Linked DNA regions of Homo sapiens: all the other regions are linked to region 3. Evidence: fine-mapped expression QTL. A gene starts in region 3. Each other region holds a variant in brackets. All regions are shown on one strand. Distances are from middle to middle.

Region 1 (7,391 bases), 710 kb before region 3:
GCATTTTAAGTAATCTGGAGATTATTTAAAGTATACAGGACAATGTGTATAGATTATATGCAAATATTACACCATTTTATATCCAGGACTTGAGCATCTGTGGATTTTGGTATCCATGGAGGTCCTGGAACCAATTCCCCTTGGGTACTGAGAGAGGACTATTTCTTTTTTGAGATGTCTCATGGGGTAATTTGAAACAGCCCTCTAGACAGCTTGAAATATGCAAGTATTTATTACATTTTTATGGGATGATAGTTCCCTTGAAGGAAAGAACAAGAAAGTATATTCCTCACTGATTATCAAACATTTTTATTCATGTAACTAACTGCTAAATTGTAACTTAGAGTTACAGAACTCCTTATGGTAGCTTAACCCCTTGCTACTCAAAGTGTGGACCATGTATTAGTAGGCCAGCTTCCCCTGGGAGCTTGTTAGAAATGCAGAATCTCAGGTGCCACCCTAGACCTACTGAATCAGAGTCTGTGTTTTAACAAGGACCCCAGAAAATTCCTATACTCATTGCAGTTTGAGAAGTGCAGTCTCTTTTTTTTTTTTTTTTTTTTTGGACAGGGTCTTGCTCTGTCATGAGGTCATGGCTCACTGCAGCCTCTATCTCCCAGGCTCAAGAGATCCTCCTGCCTGAGCCTCCTGAGTAGCTGGGACTGTAGGTGTGTGCCACCACACCTGGCTGATTTTTAAAATTTTTAGTAGAGATGAGGTCTGAATATGTTGTCTAGGCCAGTCTTGAACTCCCAAACAAAAGGAATCCCCTTGTCTTGGTCCCCTAAAGTGTTGGGATTACAGGCATGAGCCACTGTGCCAGGCTGAGAAGTGCAGTCTTAACCCATAAGACAGAGAGGTGTGCAGGAGGTAAGTCTCAACAATGTAACCATTTTTTGAGCACGGTGGTTCCTAAACTTGTCTGCACATCAGAATCACCTGGAAAGCTTTAACAACTACAGATGTTTGAGTCCCACCCCTAGAAACTCTGATATGATTGGTCTGGAGTACAGCCTGGGCATTGAAGTTTGTTTGTTTGTTTGTTTAGGGCTTGGGTCTTGCTCTGTTGCCCAGGCTGGAGTACAGTGGTGTGATCACGGCTCACTGCAGCCTCAACCTTCTGGCTGATCCTCCTGTATCAGCCTCCCAAATATCATGTCTGCTAATTAAAAAAATTTTTTTTGAAGAGATGAGGGTCTCACTGTGTTCCCTAGGCTGGTCTTGAACTCTTGGTCTCATCCAATCCTCCCACCTTAGCCTGCCAAAGTGCTGAAATTACAGCAGTAATACCAACATTACTGGCCCACCATGCATGGCCTGCCACTAAAATGTTTTGTGTTTGTTTGTTTTGAGGCAAGAACTTGCTCTATCCCCCAGGCTGGACTGCAGTAGCGTGATCATGGCTCACCGCAGCCTCAACCTCCTGGTCTCAACAATCCTCTCCCTTTGGCTTCCCAAGTAGCTAGGACTACAGGCACACCACCATACCAGGCTAATTTTTAAATTTTTTGTTGAGATGTGGTTTCACCCTGCTGCCCAGGCTTGAAATGTTTTTAAACCTTTCCAGGTGATTCTAATGTTCAGGCAAGGCTGAGAAGCACCTCCCCTGAAAACCTATAAGTTAGAAATGATTTCAGCTGCAAGCCATAGAAAAACCAAGTAATGGTGGCTTAAGCCAGTGGTTCTTAAACTTTGCTGCGCATTAGAGTCACTTCAGGAGATTTTAAAAATTGTGATGTCCAGGCTGGATCCCAAAGGGTGATGATTGAACTGGGATGGTGTGTGGTCTGGTGGTAGATATGTGCAATCAGGTTGGTTTAGCAATTCTGTGACACTTACCAATACCCTGCTCTTCTCTCCCCTCTGTCTTCTATTGGATGGAATTCTAGCTGGGATTCCCTATCCCCGTGGGCAGCTGGTGTGCCGTGTGTTCTTGCCAATGGAATGCAAGTAGAAGCATGTGCCATTTCTGAGAAGCCAGATAAAACATGTTAGGCGGGCTCCTTCATGCTCTCTTCTCCTCTTCTTTCTGGAATGGCGATGGCCAAAAGAACCTTGGAAGGCATAAACTGAAGACAGCTTTTACCACGAATTCTTTCAAGAAGATGTGAAAAAGATCCACCCCTCAACCTGACACTCCCAACCTGGACTGTTACGTGAAAGAGAAATAATCATGTATTTGTGTTGCTTGAGCATTTAGCCATTTAGTAAAAGTAAATGCATGAGACATAATCCGTTTTTATCTTTGCATTACTCCTGTGAGACAAATATCATTATATCCATTTTACAAATGAAGAAGCTGCGATACAGCAAGGTTCAGTAACTTGCCCAGAGTTACACAGCTAGAAGGTGAGAGAAGGGGTTTAAAGCTAAGGCTTTCTTATTTCAAATCCCAGGCTTTTAACGACATACCATGTATTCTCCCATGGATTTTTGAAAGTAAAAACATCATAGTTGGAAAAAATGAAGAGTTGATACAGAGAAGGCTGATACAGAGAAAGCAGCTTACATCTGTGTCTTGAAGACTGAATGTTCAATTCTGTATTCAGTAGCTTGTTGCTCCATAATTGTCAGCTGCATCTTTTTGCCTCAGCAATCAGGTCTCCATGCCTCCTTCTCTCTCACATCTGCTCTGTGTGCCCACGTGTCTGATCTACATGCTGCTGCAGTGTGGGTCTTCCTAAAAAACTATCTTCTCATGTCACTTCCTCCTGGGACAGCTTCAGAACCTACCAGTTAAAGCTCAAATTCCTTATCGTGGCACGGAAAGCCTTCCTCACCTTGCCCTGCCCTTACCTTCTGATCTTTTCCTACACCATCTCTCTGTTTCAGTCAAATGTGCTTAATTCACTTTACTAAGCCATAAACTTTCAGGGTAAGAAGGAACTTTAAAGTCAAGTAATTCAAACCATCTGTATCAGTTAGCTATTGCTGTGTAACAAACTACCCCAAAACTTAGTGCTTTGCATTTCTAACAATTCTCAGGGTGACTGGGTCGTTCTTTTGTAGATGTCACTTGCGGTCACACATATGGCTCCATTTGGCTCTAGCTGGGCTGGACGGGAAGTTCATGAAGGCCTCTCTCACACCATGGGATCTTTGTGTTATCAGCCGCTGAGTTCCAGGGTTCTTCCACATGGCCTCTCACTCCACGAGGCATCTCGCTTCACGAGGCATCTCGCTTCGTGAGGCATCTCACTCCCAGGACTTCTGCGTGTGACCTCTTGCTCCACAAGGTGTCTAACCCTCTGGGGCTTCTCCATTCGGCCTCTTGCTCCATAAGGTGTCTCCTCCTCTAGGCCTTCTCCACGTGGCCTCTCACTTCACAGGGCGTCTCATCCTCCAGGCCTTCTGCATGTGGCCTCTTGTTCCATGAGGCATTTTACTTCTAGGCCTTCTCCACATGGCCTCTTGCTCTGTGAGCTGTCTCATTTTCCAGGGTTCTTCCGCATGGCCTCTCTCTCCAGCAGGATAATCTTAATGTTCTTATCCTTGGTTTCTAAAAGGGAAAAAGCAGAAGCTATTGTACTTCTTAAAGCTTAGGCCTCTAACATATACAATGTCACTTCTGCCACATTCTATTGGTCAAAGCAAGTCACGGAGCCAGCCCATATGGACTCCATCTTTGGAAGCGAGGAGTGGCAACGGGAAGCTGTGGCAATCTTCTCCCTCTCCCTCTACATACCTCTGCCTCTGACTCTTCTGACATCTCTACCTACTGTTCTTTCTTAGCATAGCCATATTACAGAGTTTAAAGAGTGGGCTCCAGGGCTACCCTTATCTAGGTTTGAATCTCAACTCTTACCTACTCTTTGAGCTTGAGCAAGTTACCAAACTTCTTTGTGCTTCCATTTGTTCAACCATAAATTACAGGGAAATATAAATCCTACCTTAGAGAGTTGTTGTGAGAATTAAATAAGCTAATACAAAGGTCTGGAACAGTGTCTGGCTTTAGTAAGTGCTTCATAAATGTTAATTA[G/A]TAGTAGTATTTGGTGGCTCTAGCTCTCAGTTTGGTGCAAAACACAAAGAAGTCAGGTGAGGCCTAGGGTTTAAGCTCCAGGGCAGGGGAGATTAGAAGTAATATATACATAATCCCTAAGGAGTCACCGTTGCACCAAAATGCCTTGATTTAATTGATTAATGAGAAATATTTCAGGGGAGGGTGTCTAAGTGCTTCTTCAGCTTCTGAAGTGCTCCTCCTATCATAGAACCCCTGTTTCTGTAAGGTGGAAACGCACAACCCATGCCCTGTAAGGTAATCTCACAGTCATCTGAGGTTCCATTTACCTAGTCATGTTGCAACCCTCATCTTATCAAACCTTGGACTCCCAATACTGAAATTCCCTTTTTACAAGGGCACTTTTCAGATCCAAAGGAGAAGTCTACGGCAGAAGCTTGTCCGCAGGATTCTGGATACTAGCAATTCCAATCTTGGCATGCAACACTCAGCTCTGAGGAGCAATGATTTACAGCAGCAGAGTCTGGGCAGGAGACCCAGCAGCTCCTGCTACACGTGACGGAGCACAGATCCCCGAGTGAGGGCAAGTGGGGATGAGCTAAGGGAATGAATTGTGAGCTGAGGGCAGACCTCTGCGGATATTGCTAGCCTCTCTCCCTCTGATCATTAGTCATATATTCTGTGGCTTGTGAGTCTTATTTTTCCAGTTCCATTTGTTTTGTTTCATGAACAGGTTAATCATTGCTCTTACTAACAGAGAGAAAGAAAAGCATGATTTAAATTCACTCAAAGGCTGAGAGTAATCATACTAATGCATTAGATCAGATGATGCTTTGGGGCAAGATTGCTATTAGTCTGCCATAACTCATCTGATAGTTCTGTAATAAGCCTTCCTGCCATTATTTATTATTTGTTTTGTAGCATGAAATATACAAAATATAGTTACAGAAATGAAAGTGGTATGTAGAACTTATGCCTAAAATTCTGAAATACATTTGTGTCCTTACTGTCTTCGATTCATGTAATATTTTTGGAGTACCAAGTATGTGCTAGGCACTGGGAGCAAAAGGGAATATGGGAAAGGGAATCAGGTGTTTATTGAACCCATACTCTTGTCAAGGCAGCCTGACAATATCAGATTCCTAGTGGGTCCTGGAAGTCATAGTCTCTGTCCTCAACAGCTTATGATGGTGCGGAGATGGCAGGCACACAGACATGAATAGATACAAATAAAAATCAAAGACAACATACTACCATCAAATACTTTGAGGCTAAGTGAGAGTATGGATTGTAAGTGTGAGCTCCTGTGGTCATGCAAGTCTTTCTTCAGCCCCAGGGCCCTGGACAGCTACAGTCTGGAGGGCTGTCTTTGTAGTCCAGAGCCCTGTTTCTGGAGGAAGGTTCCATGGAGCTCACACTTAACAATCTCAGCATGGGCTTGGAGTCCAGGATAAGGTTCTGGGCCTACCATATACCAGCTGTGAGAATCTGGCAAGCTACTTGACTCCTCTATGCTTTGGTTTCTTCATCTATAGCTTGTACATGAGTTAAATCCAGCTCAGAGGGCGGCGATGAAAATTAAATGAAGATAAAATACTCAGACTAATCACATCATCAGTACACTCTAAGCTCCAGATCTTAGAGTTTTTATTGTTTTGGTGAATGGAGAGAAAGGGGGAGGAACAACATCAGAGGTTTACAGTAGAGGCTGATCTAAGCCATCTGTTACAGGACAAGACTAATTAGCCTGGGGTCATCGCAGCCTCTCCCACTCTCTATCCAGAGTGTGTGGGAGATAGAGAGAAATGGAGGAGGATGGGATTTGCTGCAGCCAATCTCTTGTATTTCCTTTGACATTCTCCCAGAGGATCCAGTAGGGTTTCAATTGCTTTTCCATCATTCTTGCCCTCTAACTGCTCTTTATGTAAATATGGCATGGGCAGAGACTGGCAAGGGGGGGTTCTGGTTATTTCCTCCTAATTGGAAGTGATCTCAGCCACTCTGAACCCTCAGGCCACGTTGTTTGAACTCCCTTAAAAAAAATCTTGATATAGTTTGTACCATAATATGTTTCCTTTTGCAGATGTCATACGTCCCTGATAAATCTCATTAGGATAAAAGCTGGACCTTAACTTGCTTTGAAATCTTGCTTTGCACAGAGTAGCTTGTGATGATTATTGTCAAAATAAAGAGAAGGGTATTTTCTAGGGTTAGAGATAAACCCACTACTGGAAAAAGAAGGCTCCAACCGTAAATAGTGGAAATCTTAAGAATTTTATAATGTCAATCTTGAATGGGATTTTAATTCATTCTAGGAACTGGATGGGAATCTTCAATCTGAAGGGAAGATTTAACTACTTGTTTTTATTTCAGATACTGGCATTGGGCAGGGCTGAGAAGCCTCTGCCAGCCTTGGGCCAGGAGGGGCAGCCGCACTTTTGTTCCCTGCTGAGGTATAGCACTCTATTAAGATGTGCTGGAGTGGGGGCTGTAATGTAATTGGCTTCCCAGTCAGATAGCTGTGACCATCATTTGAAGGCAGGAGAGATATTTTAAAATGAATTTCACTTTCAGCCTAGGATGCCAAGGAGCTTCTTCACTGTACAATATGAGAAAAAAGCAACATATCATCCATATTACAGTTTAGAAAATATCACAGGAAAGGAAGATACACAGATAAATTTTGGATTTATCTTTTCCAGTGGTATCATTGCATAAGACATTCTTATAAGCAAAAATGGAAGTTTACAAGTAGTTTAATATTTAGAGCATTTAATTCACTCCTTCCCATTGCCCCCAGGCTGGGGGGCACGAATGACACAGGAAGGCCAGTCTTCATGGCGTCCCATTGAAAGAAGGACTTCAGGGAAATAAGAGGGACAAGGTACGTTCTATAAACCAAGCAGAGCGTGACCTATTGTTAAATGCCCTTTTGAGGCTGGAGGCTCTTGAACAAGGCTCTTCAACTCTGGATGCACATTCCTGTCATTTTTTTTTCCTGTTTGATTTTTACTTTTTATTGAGATATGACATATATCTGGTAAAGTGCCCTAGTCTTACGTGTAAAGCTTGATGAATTTTACAAGGATTTTTTACAATTTATAAGTAGTTTGTACTTTTATATTATATATAAATATATAATAAATACTGTGTAATATTTTATCAAATGCATATACAACAATTTATTCATTCTACTATTGATGGACATTTGGATTTTCCCATTTTTTGGTTATTATAAATAAAGCTTCTGTGAACAATCTTGCACATGTCATATCCACTCAATTCTAGGAGTGGAACTGCTGAGCCATAAGGAAGGCATATGTTTAGCTTCAGTAAATACCGCCAAACGTTTCTAAAATGTCTATATCAATTTCTATTTCTACCAGCTATGTAGGAGAGTTCCAGTTGCTCTCATATAACTTCTCCAACAGTT
Region 2 (7,391 bases), 100 kb after region 3:
CATGAAATTAAACCTACAAGGAGGTATTTGTGGCTGGTGCCAAAGCATTCTGACACTTTGGGGTGTCATTTTAATCAAAGAAATCACCCCCCCACCTCACCGGGATTCTCCATAACTTCCCTCTGCAGAACTAATTATGTTGATTTTGTTCAAGTTCAAGATGTTAGCTAAAAGAACTATGGTGGTGTTTTTTTTCCCACTTCCCACAAACCTCAACATGTGCCAGTCACCCTAAAATGCTTCACATGGTTAAAAACAAGCACAATTTTGAATCCTACAGCAAGGATGAAAGGCCCCTAGCCGTGAAAACAGTGCTTTGGGGAGCAGTTGTCAGTCTAAGTGATGCTATTCCAAGAGAAGGATATGCTGAGGGAAAATGCCCACATGACCTGTTCCCATTTGGAGTACAGTGATGTGGTAGCTACAGCTTCCCCCAGAATTATCATTTTAGCACCTTCTCTCAGGGATGACCTATCAGTTTGAGAGCAGTTGCCTCTTTTCTCAAAATACCATACTAACTGCTAAAGCCCTCCAAGAGTCTTTCCTAGATGCAACGCAGAAGGCCCTTGCTGGTGATGGCCTCATTTCCCATGTGTGTACAAGGTGGTTTGATTGAAGAGTGAAGTGCATGCCTGCAGAGCAGAGAGAAATTTGTAGCAATGTTGCTAATATGTGTTATCAGATCTGCGGGAAAACTATTTCTATTCATAATACATCATGGGAATCATACTATTCTGGTAAAAATCAGTTATTAGCATAACAGCCTGAGCACTTATGTCTCTCGTTTCATCCTGCAGGAGGATGTAGCGCCTCAGTTTATTTTAATGTTCATAAGATTATGGTGTCTAATTTAATAAATTACAGGATTGGAACTGCGATCCTTGGTACCACAGTCACAGAACTGGGGGTCATTTTCTAGATGAAACAAACGGAACAAGTTCTCTTCCAACAAAGAAACTGTACTGTAGAAATTAATTTCCTCCATGAATTTTATATATTGTGTACAAATATAAGGTATGTATCTGAATACAAAGAAAAGCCTATCATCATATAGATATCAGTATTCTCTGTTACTGCACAGAAGTAATTTTCTCATGATGAAATAAAGTTCACACACATACTTTCTCCATAACTTTGGTTTGTTCTATTTGTTTCTCCCTCATTCTAATACATTCAGTGAGACAAGATTTAGAAAGCAAGAAAAAATATAGTGAATAGCTTATTTTAAAAAAAAAGATATGATCGATCTGTAACAATAGACAAAGCCTATAGGATCAAATAATTATCTCTTTTTTGTTTGTTTTTTAGAAATCAGTGAGAAAAATGCTATTAACAGAGTTTTGGTACATTCACTGCACTTATGCTTTATTAATCTTATTTCCTACAGTTTCCAGAAAGGTTTGCTTTAGAGATTTTTTTTTTCTTTGCTGGTATTGGGGGTGGTGGGGTGGTGCGTTCTGGCTTTCTAGTGTAACAAAATCTTTCACCTTCTTCTTAGCAAGAGTTAATCCCTTTTCAAACTTCAAAACAAAAATTCTGTATCACAGAAAGGTAAAATTTCATATGCGGTAACAAGTCTAACTTGTAATCACATGCATTTAGTCTGAGGTTTAAATTGCTCATCTTTTGTACTCTGTGAGCTTTCACAAAACCTTTTGCTGATCTAAAGGTAACGTTATGCAGGGGAGATCAAATGTCTACATTACTATAAATTTTGATTGGTTTTTTCTTCGAAAGCAAATTTATCTGTCTATTTATTGGGCAGTGCTTGATAAGTGACCACTGTGTGCTAGGCTGTGGGTATAGAGTGTTGAACAGACGTTATCCCTACTGTCCTGGAGTTTACAAGCTAGAAAAGGAAACAAGCCTTAGAGAAATAAACATATAAATAGTTCCATTTTTACACATTGTGATAAACACTGAAAAACAGGGAAAAGGGATTAGCAGGAAGATAAAATTTTTATAGGAGAATTAGGAAAGCAATAAAAATTAATTAAATTCAATGGAAATTATAAAGAACATGCTATTAAGAGAAAAGGAAAGGAGTCAGGTGCCGTAGCTCATGCCTGTAATCCCAGATACTTGGGAGGTTGAGACGGGAGGATCCTGTGAGCCCAGGAGTTTGAATCCTGCCTGGGCAACATAGTGAGACCCCATCTTAAAAAAAAGAGACAGAGAAAAGGAAAGGAGAATGCATTATTATATGAGTCCAAGTGTGGATAGTTCTCTGAAAGCAAAGTTCCTGGAGATGTATCAAAGACACCCATGGAAAAAACGCCAGTTGCACATCTAAACCAAATTACACTGACTTAAGATGAAATATAACTGTAAGCAATTAAGAATTTTAATGAAATTTTCAAATAAGGCCCCCAAGCCCCAAAACTTGGTCATGGGTATCTTTAAATTAATTCATCTAATAGCCATCATGGCTGTGCCAGTCTTTGAAACCATCTGCAAAAGAGTATCTGTTGAAAACATTACACAGCAAGGCCATCTTAATACACAGAGTTCTAAGGTTTATGCTATGTGTGAGACAAGCTGTACTCCTGTTTTAAAAAATCATACAGGGCTGAGAACAGGATAGGACATTTTCTGTTTATTTTTCTCTAGTTTCCCTCTTCCTATCTAAGTAGATTCTGCCTACAAAGTCTATTTAGGTAGGGGCTAGACATCTGACTTTGTAGGACAAAGTCTATCTATTTAGTCTATTTAGATAGACTTTGTGGCTACAAAGCCAGACATGTAGCATCTTCCAATCTCTTTCTGACCTTTCTACCTTCCTTTTTTTTGAGACAAGGTCACACTCTGTCACCCAGGCTGCAGTGCAGTGGCACAATCATAGCTCACTGCAGCCTCCTACACCTGGGCTCAAGGAATCCTCCCACCTCAGCCTCCTGAGTAGTTAGGACTACAGGCATGTGCCACCATGTCTGGCTAATTTTTTAAATTTTTTGTAGAGATGTGGTCTTGCTGTGTTGCCCAGGTTTGTCTCAAACTCCTGGCCTCAAGTGATCCTCCTCCCTTGGCCTCCCAAAGTACTGGGATGACAGGCATGAGCCACCATGTAGCCCCTACCTGCCTTTGATAAGGATCCTTGTGATTACCTTGAGCCCACCTGGATAATCCAGTATAATCCCCCCATCTCAAGATCCTTAATGTAATCACCTCTGCAGTGTCCCTTTTGCCATGGATAATAACATATTCACAGGTTCTGGGGATTCAGATGTGGACATTTTTAGATGGCCCATTATTCTTAGTACTATACTTTATGAGGAAGGTATTATTATTGTCATCTTTCTCTACTTATGGGAAACTGAGCTGCTGAGAGGTTAAGTATAATAATATGTCAGATCCAGGACTTTAAGCC[G/A]CCAATGCTCAGCACAGTCCGCTGTGGTGCTAACATTAGAAAAGTGCTATTTGCCCTCAACCAAATGGAAAGAAAGAGAGGGAAAACTATCCAAAGTCTGTCTGCAAGGTGACTGAAAACACCTTGTCAAAATGAAGCAGCGCTGTGTAGCTGCCTCATATGCTCATCCAGAAATCCCAGCCAGAAGGAGGACTTTACTACTTGCAGTCATGTTGGGCAGATCTCCTGAGGTCAAGAGTTCGAGACCAGCCTGACCAACATGGAGAAACCCTGTCTCTACTAAAAATACAAAATTAGCTGGGTGTGGTGGCGGGCGCCTGTAATCCCAGCTACTTGGGAGGCTGAGGCAGGAGAATCACTTGAACCTGGGAGGCAGAGGTTGCGGTGAGCTGAGATTGCACCATTCCACTCCAGCCTGGGCAACAAAAGTGAAACTCCATCTCAAAAAAAAAAAAAAGAGTCTTGTTGAAAAGAGTAGCGTTCCAGCTTTAAGAAGATGTGGGAGTGGCCATCATTTCCAGCATAATATCCAAACTCTTTATCAGGTCCTGTGCTCATTTTCATGTCTTTGCAGAAATTTCCTCCAGCTCCCTCCCATCCCAGGTGAGCAGGTCACCTAGAGAGGCCCTTCCCCCACTGGTACCAGTGGATACTCTTGGCTGGCAGTGACGAGATTTGCCCGGGAAGGAAAAGGAATATCAGAGCTACATCTCTGAGGCTCTGATACTACCAAATGAAAGTTACTACCAAATGAGGTCTGGCACTCAGAGCCCTGCTTGGGTTGACATCACAGAGCCATTTATTCACAGAAGCTTTCCAGCCCTGCCTGTCCTAACTGGGAGGGAAAATGGGGAGAAGGTAGTCAGTGATAATTAGAGAAAAGAGGGCTGGCTCTCAAGCCATCTACCCAGCATTTTTCAGGATTGTTTTATCTAATGACAAATAGGTTGGGATTCTTGAAACTACATCTTAAAAACTGCTTTCTAAAAAGTGGGCCTAGACAATGTTACTCATAAAGATTAAAATGTCTTTCTCCCCGATTAGACTCTCAGCATCACGCTGCCCCTTTCATTGTAGTAGCTCCTTCTTCTGTGCATTGAAGGAAACCACCCAGAAAAGATGTAATGGTGCAGACAAAATATAAACTTATGCTTCCATTTGTCTGAATGCAAATTGGCCTCAGATGCATCTGTCCAGAATCTTTTTGCAATTACTTATTTATTTATTCATTCATTCATTCATTCATTTATCTTTCCAGAGACAGAGTCTCACTCTGTCACCTAGCTGGAGTGCAGTGTCACGATCGTGGCTCACTGTAACCTTGACCTCCTGGGCTCAAGTGATCCTCCTGCCTCAGCCTCCCTAGTAACTGGCTCTATAGGCATGCCACCACACCTGGCTTTTTTTTTTTTCCGTAGAGACAGGGTCTCACTATGTTGCCCAGCCCGGTCTCAAACTCCCGGCCTCAAGCGATCCTCATGCCTTGACCTCCCAAAGTGCTGGGATTACAGGCATGAGCCACCGTGCCCAGCTCCTTTGCTCATATTTAATAGTGATTTTGGTCCAGCATAAGTACTGCACCCTGATGTGCTGAGACCTCCAGAAATGCTGTCACCTTGTGAGGAACAAAGAACCTGTCAGAAGAACAACTACAGGGAACACCTCAGCCCATCTAATCCCTCTAGCCAAAATTCCAAGGAGGACAGTGATGTGTGTGCCTTTCCAATCCCTAACCACTACATAAACTAAACACTCTATTTAAAGAAGAAAAGATGTATCCTTAACACAGTTAGGGTTTATTAGGTCCTCTACACAAACCTTGGTCCCCACTGAGACCACTGAAATGTGCCCTGGGGCCAGTGGCATAAGCTTTACCTTTTGTATATTTCTAGGTTACAAAGGAGCAGCAATAGTCTTGTCACCCCAAAATTTTATCCTCCAGGAATTGATCCTACCTGAGTCTCTATTGTATCCCTCCACAGCTGTGGTGTAACTTGGATATGTCCCTTAGCCTCTCTGGACTTCAGTTTTCTCATCTCTAAAACCATGGACTTACAGCTGAGGACCTCTGAGTCTTTACAATTAGTACCTTTGTGGCTTCTCTCTCTAAAACTGCTGTTGAAAGTTGTTTCAGAAAATGCTATGAAGCAGCATTAGATACCTCCTGCCTCCTCCAAGGGTCATAATGAGTCTTAAAGTTATGCCTATGATACTGAAAATTCAACACTAATAGAAAATGATTGATAAAGGATCATATAAGGAAATGTATATGGTCTACTGAAAGATGGTTTTTCTGTCTCTGCTTTTCCTGACCCAGAGCATCTGGGCCTCTCCAAAAATAGTTAGAAGAATATGCATTTCCAGGACAAAGTTCTCAAGGTAGGTAATCATACCTGACCATATTTGGGTAAATTTTACAAAATCCAAGGTGAGAGGCATAATGATAGGTTTCAGAGCCCAGAAAAGAGAGATACTTTGTTCTTTTAAATTTTGACACATGCATGATATCCCAGGGAATTTCTTGCATTTTTCCATGGGACTGAGATTCAGAACCCTATTTTTGGTTCTGGGAAGTGTGCTTTGCAACTGATACCCTGGAAAGCAGTTTCATTCTTTGGAATCCTCTGTATGTAATTGAAATACAGGAATTTTCAGTTCCTCTGATGATAGTTCCTTATAAATAATGCCATGGTATTCTAAATTGGAGTGGAGAACTTGGTGATGAAGTATGCATCTGTCCTTGGGGTGGCAAAAGCTGTTTCATTCTTCTAAAAGAAGGTTTTCAAAACAGATTTGTTTCTCACTTCTCAATTGCAATTAATGCCACACTTAACAAAGCTTAAAATACCACCTTTTATTATAAATTATGTACCAGTTGGACATAATTGTGACTTTGGCTGCTTATAAGACCATTTATGAAAACAGCCTCATTCTTCATTCATTTCTTTGTCTCTTTTAAAATCTTCCCAACAAAAGCAAATTATTTTACAGCTGGTTTATAATTGAGTTGAAACTCATCTTTAACACTGTACAATTCTTCGTGACATGTCTTGCCTTACCGTGCTCCAAAATACAACCATCTTATTGGACCTGGGTTCAAGGGCTGCTTAAGTTATGAAGTTGTTCACTGCCAGACAGGAGGACAACCCAGACTTCTACCAGGACACAGAGGGCACTGGATTAGTATACACTATCATAAGCAACCACAATCTGTTTGCTTTTCCTCTTTAGATTCCAAAAATAACACCCCAAAGGCTACCTTTTCAAATATTCTACAACATCTGCAAAAATCTTTAGTACTCTGTCCTTGGAGTCAGTCAAGAAATTCCACCCCCAGAAGTGTAAAAACCAATCAATAATATATGACACTGATTTTCTCTAAATTATTATTTTTCTTATGGTTGAGTCTCCTGCCAACTTTATGTTTCCCAACGGCTCAATTCTACTGCAATGTCTGGCACATGACAGGTGTTCAATAGCGTTGGCTAATGAACAAATAAAAGAAATATATGGGCTGGGTGCCATGGCTCATGCCTGTAATCTCAACACTGGGGAGGCTGAGGTGGGAGGACTGCTTGAGGCCAGTGGTTTGAGACCAGCCTGGGCAACATAAAAAGACCTTGTCTCTACAGAAAAAATTAAAATTGGCCAGGTGCAGTGGTATGCACCTGTAGTTCCAGCTACTCAGGATGCTGAGGGAGGAGGATCCCTTGAGCCCAGGAGTTCAAGGCTGCAGTGAGCTATGATCAACACCACTACACTCTAGCCTGGATGACCAAGTGAGACCCTGTCTCTAAAAAAGAAATAAAGAAACAAAAGAAATATATGGTGGCCAAACAGGAGTACATCACCTAGATATTCTCAGTCAATAATACAAGTGGTCCCCAGCCAATCTTTGCTTTGTTGATTCTTGATTGCTTTTTTTAAGCAGAGGTCTCTGCCCTTATCTAGACCCTAACTCCAGACTCCAGCCAATCCTAGTGAGGAAGGGAAAGAAGTCCAGGAAAGAGCAAGAGGAAAATGA
Region 3 (7,391 bases):
ACCAATTACATTTCAATTTTTATTCCCTTTTAAACATAAGTCATTGGGGGGCTATAAAGCACATTATGGCCAAACAGTGCAACATGAGGGGAAAATCTTCAAAGGCCTTCAAGAATATTTTAAAGAAATGGATTCAAAGAAAAATAGTAAACTTTTGGCTGGGAGCGCTGGCTCATGCGTGTAATCCCAGCACTTCGGGAGGCTGAGGCAGGTGGATCACTTGAGGTCAGGAGTTTGAGACCAGTCTGGCCAACATAGTGAAACCCTGTCTCTACTAAAAAAAAAAAATGTAAAAATTAGCCAGGCATGGTGGTGCACACCTGTAGTCCCAACTACTCAGGAGGCTGAGGCACGAGAAACACTTAAACCTGGGAGGTGGAGGTTGCAGTGGGCCAAGATTGTGCCACTGCACTCCAGCCTGGGGAACACAGCAAGACTCCAGTCTCAAAAAAAAAAAAGGAAAAAAAAAGTAAACTTTCAGAGAAGGTGAGCAGAATATCATAGAAGTTAACAAAGAACATTTTGGGTACTTATCACATTCAGAGCTTGAAGAGAGTAGAACTCAGCACTTGTTGAATGAATGAATGAATGAATGAATGAACAAAGGAACAAACTTATATGTGTCCGGGTTCCAATCCCAGCCTCACCATATTTGACCTTGAGTACTTAAGTGTCTTTGCTTATCTTCAGTTTATTTATCTGTAAAATGGGAATAATTGTGCCTACCTCTTCTTGTAATTACAGGGATTTAACCAAGTAATGTATACAAATAAATAAATCCCCTGTTTGGAACAGGGTGAACTCTCAACAAATGAGTCATTTTAAGAGCTCTCCTAGGATTGACTGATTTAGCTAATTCCTAAACAAACAGATCTAACAATGAAATCATCTCAAGCGACTTCATAATAGACCAAATCTTTCTATATTGACTATATTATAAACCTGTGTTGTTCTTTTTGCGAACCCAACACTGCATTACACCATGAGACATCCTCTAAAATTCTTCTTTACTTTGAACTAAGCATAAACTTTCTGCTAATAAGATCTCTTAGATGATATACTATTATAAGCAGAGTTCAAACTCATACAAAGTGTAACAGCTGCTCACCTTGCTGGTCCAAGATATTGTGACTTGTGGTCAAATGCATACAAAAGCCATAAAAGGACACTCCTTTCTAATATTTTCTCAATAATTAACTTTCATTACAATTCAATTAATACTATATTGAATATAATTATTAGTAATTTCTCTTGGGACCTATAAATTAAGTGTATCCTGCAAGTGCAGCTAATGTCCCAACCATACCTGAAGAAATTTTATCTATGTCTGTAAACAGAGTGCATATACCTTTGGATGCTCTGGTCTCAACTAGTTGAAAGCCAGCTTAAAAATAAATCACGTCACATTTATGATTAACATGGCTTTAAATAACAATGGGGACTTTATTCCCCCACACAATGATCAACTACTGTTCTCACTGCAACTAAAGATGTTGAAAAGATAACCTAGTTTATTGGACAATTTCTACAAGGGCAGTGTAATAAAATGTCCATTTTTTTTCTGGACAATAAAGTACTTTTAAATTATCAACATAGCTGCATATAATCAAGTTATCTCCTGTCTGGAAGGTGGAAAATTGGAATATTTCTAGAACTTGCAAAGAGTTTTTGTCCTTTACTTCATGAATCATTCAGCAAAAGCCGGCTATGTACTATTTCAAATGTTACTACCTCAGAATGTCACTTGACTCAAAGATTTTCCTTTCCTTTTCTTCTTCCTCCCTCCCTTTCTTCCCTTCCTTCCGCCTTTCCTTTCCCCCCCCCTTCCTTCCTCCCTCTCTCCCTCTTTCCCTTCTTCCCTCCCTCCCTCCCTCCTTGTACAGGGACTAACACTAGAATCACCGCCTCACCATGCCCCTCGTTGGAAGAAACAGAAAGGCACACGATGCTGTAAGCTATGGCAGATGCCCAGGGCACGTGGGGTTGAATAATGCTGTTTGGAGTGAAACACTGAGACTCCGCAGTCACACAGTGATTCATTTACAGAGCTTTACTAAACTACGGGCACTCAGAAATAGACAAACTGTTCTTGCCTCAACCGAACCAAAGGCCCAGCGGGCCTCGAAAAAGCTCAGCCAGGTGCTTTGGGAGGCCGCGAGGAGGAAGAAGGATCCGTGGAAGGAAGCACGTTCACACCACGGCACTGAGGCCTCTGGGCCGAGCTATAATTTAAAGCATGAAACGAAGGGGTCATAGATTCTGACTAATGCTGACCATTTCCATCGGTTACCCAGTTGAATCTCATGTCGACACTAGGAAATCGACTTTATACATGCTCTTTAGGAAACGAGGGACGCAGGATGAAAGAAGCCAAGAGTGTCGCCAGGGCTTGCGCCAGCGCCGTCAGACTCCCGGGATGGGGGAGCTCCAGGGCACGGCGTCAGCGGATTCACGGAGAAGGAGAAAAGCCCCACTGCCGTGCAGAAGCCTAGGCCCGGGTGAGACGCCTGCGAAGGCTGCCAGCAGCGGAAGAGAAGGGGCGTCCTCCGTGCTGCGCAGCACTCGCCCGCGGTAGGTGGGCGCGGAGCTCAGAGCTGGGAGCCAAACGCAAACGCTGGCGAGAAGCCCCAGCCCCCTCCGGCAGCCCACTCGCTGCGGGGAGGGGTTTCTCACGCCCCCAGCTCCTGGGAGACTGCACCGGAGGTCGGAAGTAAGCCGGGCGAGGATGAATCATCCCGCCTAACTCCTCCTTCCCGGTCCCCTAGCCTCCGCACGCCGGCCCCCTTCAGAGATCTTGCAGCCGCGAGCGAAGACTGCCCTATCCTCAGACTCTACCGAACCCCCTGTGGCCTGCGGAGACGAGGAGACGGACGGGTCTGGTGGCCAATGAGAGCTTCGATCTCTTGCCCCCCGCCCAATGGGCCGCTGCTCATGGGCCGGGGCGGGACTAGGAGGGCAGGTAGGGGCGGTCCGGGCTGGCGCGCGGCGCGGCGGCTACGCGGCTGCGGCTCACAGAGCTAGCGCCTCTCTGGGTGTCCGTGCCAGTGCTGCGCGGGAAGGCACCACCACCACAGCCGCCGCCGCTGGCCAGGGTGCTGGACAAGACGGGCCCGTCGGCCACCTCGCCAGCTCAGGCACCCGCTGCAGCCGTCGCTGTCTCCTCCCAGACCGGTCCCCATGGAGGAGATGGAAGAGGAGTTGAAATGCCCCGTGTGCGGCTCCTTCTATCGGGAGCCCATCATCCTGCCCTGCTCTCACAATTTGTGTCAGGCGTGCGCCCGCAACATCCTGGTGCAGACCCCAGAGTCTGAATCCCCCCAGAGCCATCGGGCCGCGGGCTCCGGGGTCTCCGACTATGACTATCTGGACCTGGACAAGATGAGCCTATACAGCGAGGCGGACAGCGGCTATGGCTCCTACGGGGGGTTCGCCAGCGCCCCCACTACCCCGTGCCAGAAGTCCCCCAACGGCGTCCGCGTGTTTCCCCCGGCTATGCCGCCACCGGCCACCCACTTGTCACCGGCCCTGGCCCCGGTGCCCCGCAACTCCTGTATCACCTGCCCCCAGTGTCACCGCAGCCTCATCCTGGATGACCGGGGGCTCCGCGGCTTCCCCAAGAATCGCGTACTGGAAGGGGTAATTGACCGCTACCAGCAGAGCAAAGCCGCGGCCCTCAAGTGCCAGCTCTGCGAGAAGGCGCCCAAGGAAGCCACCGTCATGTGCGAACAGTGCGATGTCTTCTACTGCGATCCGTGCCGCCTGCGCTGCCACCCGCCCCGGGGGCCCCTAGCCAAGCACCGCCTGGTGCCCCCGGCCCAGGGTCGTGTGAGCCGGAGGCTGAGCCCACGCAAGGTCTCCACCTGCACAGACCACGAGCTGGAGAACCACAGCATGTACTGCGTGCAATGCAAGATGCCCGTGTGCTACCAGTGCTTGGAGGAGGGCAAACACTCCAGCCACGAAGTCAAGGCTCTGGGGGCCATGTGGAAACTACATAAGGTGAGTCCTAAGAAAACCCACTCCTAACTCCCTGCGTCTCCGATCATCCGGTTTTGCAGCAGACGGTCCCCGTCTCTTGCGCACAGCGCATCCCAGTGGGGGCGCAATGCAGGTGCCTTCGATGTTTACCTCCCTGGTCTGGTGCATTGCAGGAGGCATGGGGGAATCTTAACCGGCGCACGGGGGAGTTGAATGCCCCCACAGAGTTGTTGCGGGGATGCCTTAGAGCGGGTCTCTCGGGGCGCGCTGCCTGCGAGCGGGACTCAGGGCGCCCCCTTTCCGCGGCGGGTCTGCAGCCAGTGGCCGCGGCCAGTGTGTGGGAAAGCACTGCATAGCTGGGTAGAGCCGCGCCAGTGCCCAGGGCCGCTAGGCACGCTCGAGGGCAGGGCGGGCTGCGAACCCTCGGGGAGGGACTGGGATGGGGGCGGTGGGGTCGCGCGGACGGCGGGAGTCTGTCGCTGCTGGATAGGCGGACCTGGTGAGGCACGGCGGAGGGTCGGGGAGACGCCGCAGGCGGAATACTGATGAGCCCGGCTCTGGGCCAGACCTGGCTCTCGAGCTGGAGAGAACGCGGGGTCCTGGTGCCACGTGCTCAAAAGACAGAGCGGAGAGGGCAGCCAGCGGTCGCCATGGCAACGCGACGTGCAGGCTTGGGCCTGAACCCTTCCGGAGTTGGGACCTGAGACTAGAGTGTCAGGACCGGAGTTTGCGCAGTCGCGGCCTGGAAGCCAGACAGGTGCATCTCCTAGGGAAACCTTCTCCTCCCAACTATACACACACCCACTTCTCCGGAATTCAAGCCCTTTCCTCTTTCAGTAGTTATATGTGCAAACTTTGGGACACCTGTTACCAGATTTATCTTTCCAGTCTCTTTTGATGATATTTCCACCATGGCTAGACACGAAGAGGCTTTAGCAACATATTCTGTCGTGCCACTCCTCTGCTCAAAACCCTCCAATTTTTCCCACGCTTCTCAGCCTGTCCTACATGACCTCTTCCATTTTGGCCCCTTCGACCTCATTGCCTCCCACTTACTCCCTCTGCTCCAGCCACACTGCTTCTTACTGTTCCTCAAACGACGCCAGGCACCTCCCTACTCCAGGGCCTTTGCATTTGGTGTTCATTCAGCCTGAAGCTCTCTTCCCCAGTTACCTGAGATCCGAATGGGTCACTTACCTGCATCCTTCAGCTCTTTGCTCAGGTATCATCTTTGCAGCGCCACCCACCCAGACACCCGCTAGTTCCCTCTCAGCTTTATTTTCCTCAGTAGTATTTATCCCTGTGTGGCATGCTATATATTTTAATTATGTTATTTTTTGTATTTATCTATTGCTCCCTGTACACACACAGACATAAACGAAATAAGCCTCATGAGGAAGAAGATCCTTATAATATGCCCACACTGCTTAGAAGGAAGGGAGCAACTCTTGAGGAGATGTGCATGAATTTGCTTTTCATTTTTTAAATGATCCATTTAGTTGGGGCTGTGGAGTGCAGGGCAGGGATTCAGGATGGTTGGAAGGAGCTTTTCTTTACATCACTGAGTTGCATACCCAAGGATGAGATGGAGCAGTGAAGATAGTGTCCAGGCCTCAGCTGTGGCCTTGCTCAGAGTCTCCCAGAATTCCTTGGAGACTAGAAAGGGTAGCTTTTGCAAGTGGCCAACTGTGGAGTTAAGGCTGGAACATTGATATTTTGTTTACAGCAAGAAAAAAATGTCATTAATTTTCAGCAATCAGTGAAAGTTTTCTCAACTCCTTAACCCGGTTGAATGTGATCCATGTTTACAGTCATTCTATTCTCACATATAACCTATTAAATCATATTAGTACTGATGGGGATTTCATTTAGCACAAATTGAAGCCTAACTGGGCACACACCACTGTTTTCAGAACAGTCGAATTTAAATTTTTGAAAATGACATTTAATTTTGAAAGTTTTCAAAACTTGAGTTCACAGCTAGTTTTTTATTCATATTTTGATTTCACTTTTAAACTGCTAATTATAGTCCATGTTGAATTGCCCTACAAAGTATCCTTGGAACTAAAAAATTAATCACTCTGTCAGGAAAAAGAATTTAGAGCCACAAGGTAATTAGGATGGGTAAACCACAACATTATTATTTTTTTTATGACAAGCCTATCCTTGATCTATTAAGACCAAAAGAAACCTTTAAATCTCTGTCAAGCCCCATGTCAATTTGAAATGTTAAATCATTTGTTTTATTGGCAATAGAAATTATGAGTAGACAGACACTGGTGCTGCCTGGGTTGAGATTTAGATATCTACCTGCCACAAAAGAATGTTAAAACCCTTGAAACATGACATAAGTAGGCTAGAAGACCATTTATTCTCTGATCTTTTGCACATTTTTTCCAAAACAGTAAGGACACATAATTTTTGTTCAGTCAATATGAGGATTACTAAACTGCCAAGAAAAAAAATAAGACAGAAGGATGACAGATTTTAACATTCACTTGTCATCTGTTAGATGAACAACAAACATTACTCCCCCACCTTATTTACTTAATAAGGAAGTTAATGTGTTAGCAGCCAGTTTTCTCATATAGTTTATGTTTTAGTTAATGGTACTTCTATCTCCACAAAAGCCCATGGGCCAGAATTTCTATGCCCTGCAAAAATAGGACAGCAAAGAACTATACTAACTAGGTTTCCAAAATTGGGCAGTTAGTTATCAACACAGGTTATTACTAGACCTGAAAAGTTGTCATTCATATTCTATCATATTAGTCATTTCTACTGATAAAGCAAGTCCTGCAGATAAGTATTTCCCACAGGCATAAATCATCATCTTACACACTCAAGATATAATAAAATGGCTGCAGTTTATTTTTAAAGTGGTATTAAAAACATCTGGTTGAAATTCACTAGTTTTCAACTGGCCAGATTAAAATGTTTTTCAGATATTTTTGGTCTTCAAAACTCCATGAAAAATAATAACACATGAATAATAATAATAATAATAATGGTCTTATAAGTCAAATATTTGGTAGCAGTTTTTATTTAGTGCCAGTACTTAACTATATTCCTTTATTCAACGTACTTGTTAAAAGAATTATAACACCAAAAAAGTGATTTTGTAGATACTTTAAAATGGGCAATAGAAACCACTACTATTACTTTGTGATTTTAAGCAGTTCACATTCCTAAATCCTGATATTATCCTTGAATTCCTGGGGTTTCAATAGTCACTGAATCAGGGCTGGGTGCACTGGATTATGCCTGTAATCCCAGCACTTTGGGAGGCCGAGGCGGTCAGATCTCTTGCGGCCAGGATTTAAGACCAGCCTGACCAGCATGTTGAGACTCCATTTCTACTGAAAAATCAAAAATTAGCTGGGCATGGTGGTGCATGCCTTGTAGTTCCAGCT

Alleles and levels. Positions count from the first base shown, and alleles are read on the strand shown. Sizes are in standard deviations (SD) of each study's normalised expression.
With allele A in place of G in region 1, the expression in monocytes after triphosphate RNA of the gene that starts at base 3,012 in region 3 is higher (moderate effect, 0.55 SD a copy in Kim-Hellmuth 2017).
For the expression in lung of the gene that starts at base 3,012 in region 3, allele A in region 2 goes with a lower level than allele G (small effect, 0.34 SD a copy in GTEx).

What was found. PIP is the estimated chance that this variant, and not a neighbour inherited with it, causes the effect.
Region 1: its variant is the best candidate, but not a certain one, in a credible set for the expression of TRIM9 in monocytes after triphosphate RNA (Kim-Hellmuth 2017, PIP 0.65).
Region 2: its variant is the best candidate, but not a certain one, in a credible set for the expression of TRIM9 in lung (GTEx, PIP 0.63).

What each region holds. Positions count from the first base shown.
Region 1 is chr14:51,804,729-51,812,119 of GRCh38, reverse strand. LOC101927598 (a long non-coding RNA gene) reads right to left here. Exons shown (of 8, transcript XR_002957605.2): 3 at 1,840-3,499. Among named protein-coding and RNA genes, the nearest start is that of GNG2, 52 kb to the left of the region's middle. The variant G/A (reference allele first, on the strand shown) is at 3,980.
Region 2 is chr14:50,989,805-50,997,195 of GRCh38, reverse strand. The region is part of intron 7 of TRIM9 (tripartite motif containing 9); the gene reads left to right. Among named protein-coding and RNA genes, the nearest start is that of PYGL, 49 kb to the right of the region's middle. The variant G/A (reference allele first, on the strand shown) is at 3,368.
Region 3 is chr14:51,090,726-51,098,116 of GRCh38, reverse strand. It overlaps TRIM9 (tripartite motif containing 9), which reads left to right and starts at 3,012. Exons shown (of 13, transcript NM_001387360.1): 1 at 3,012-3,999. The coding sequence starts at 3,178. RefSeq lists a silencer at 2,951-3,020.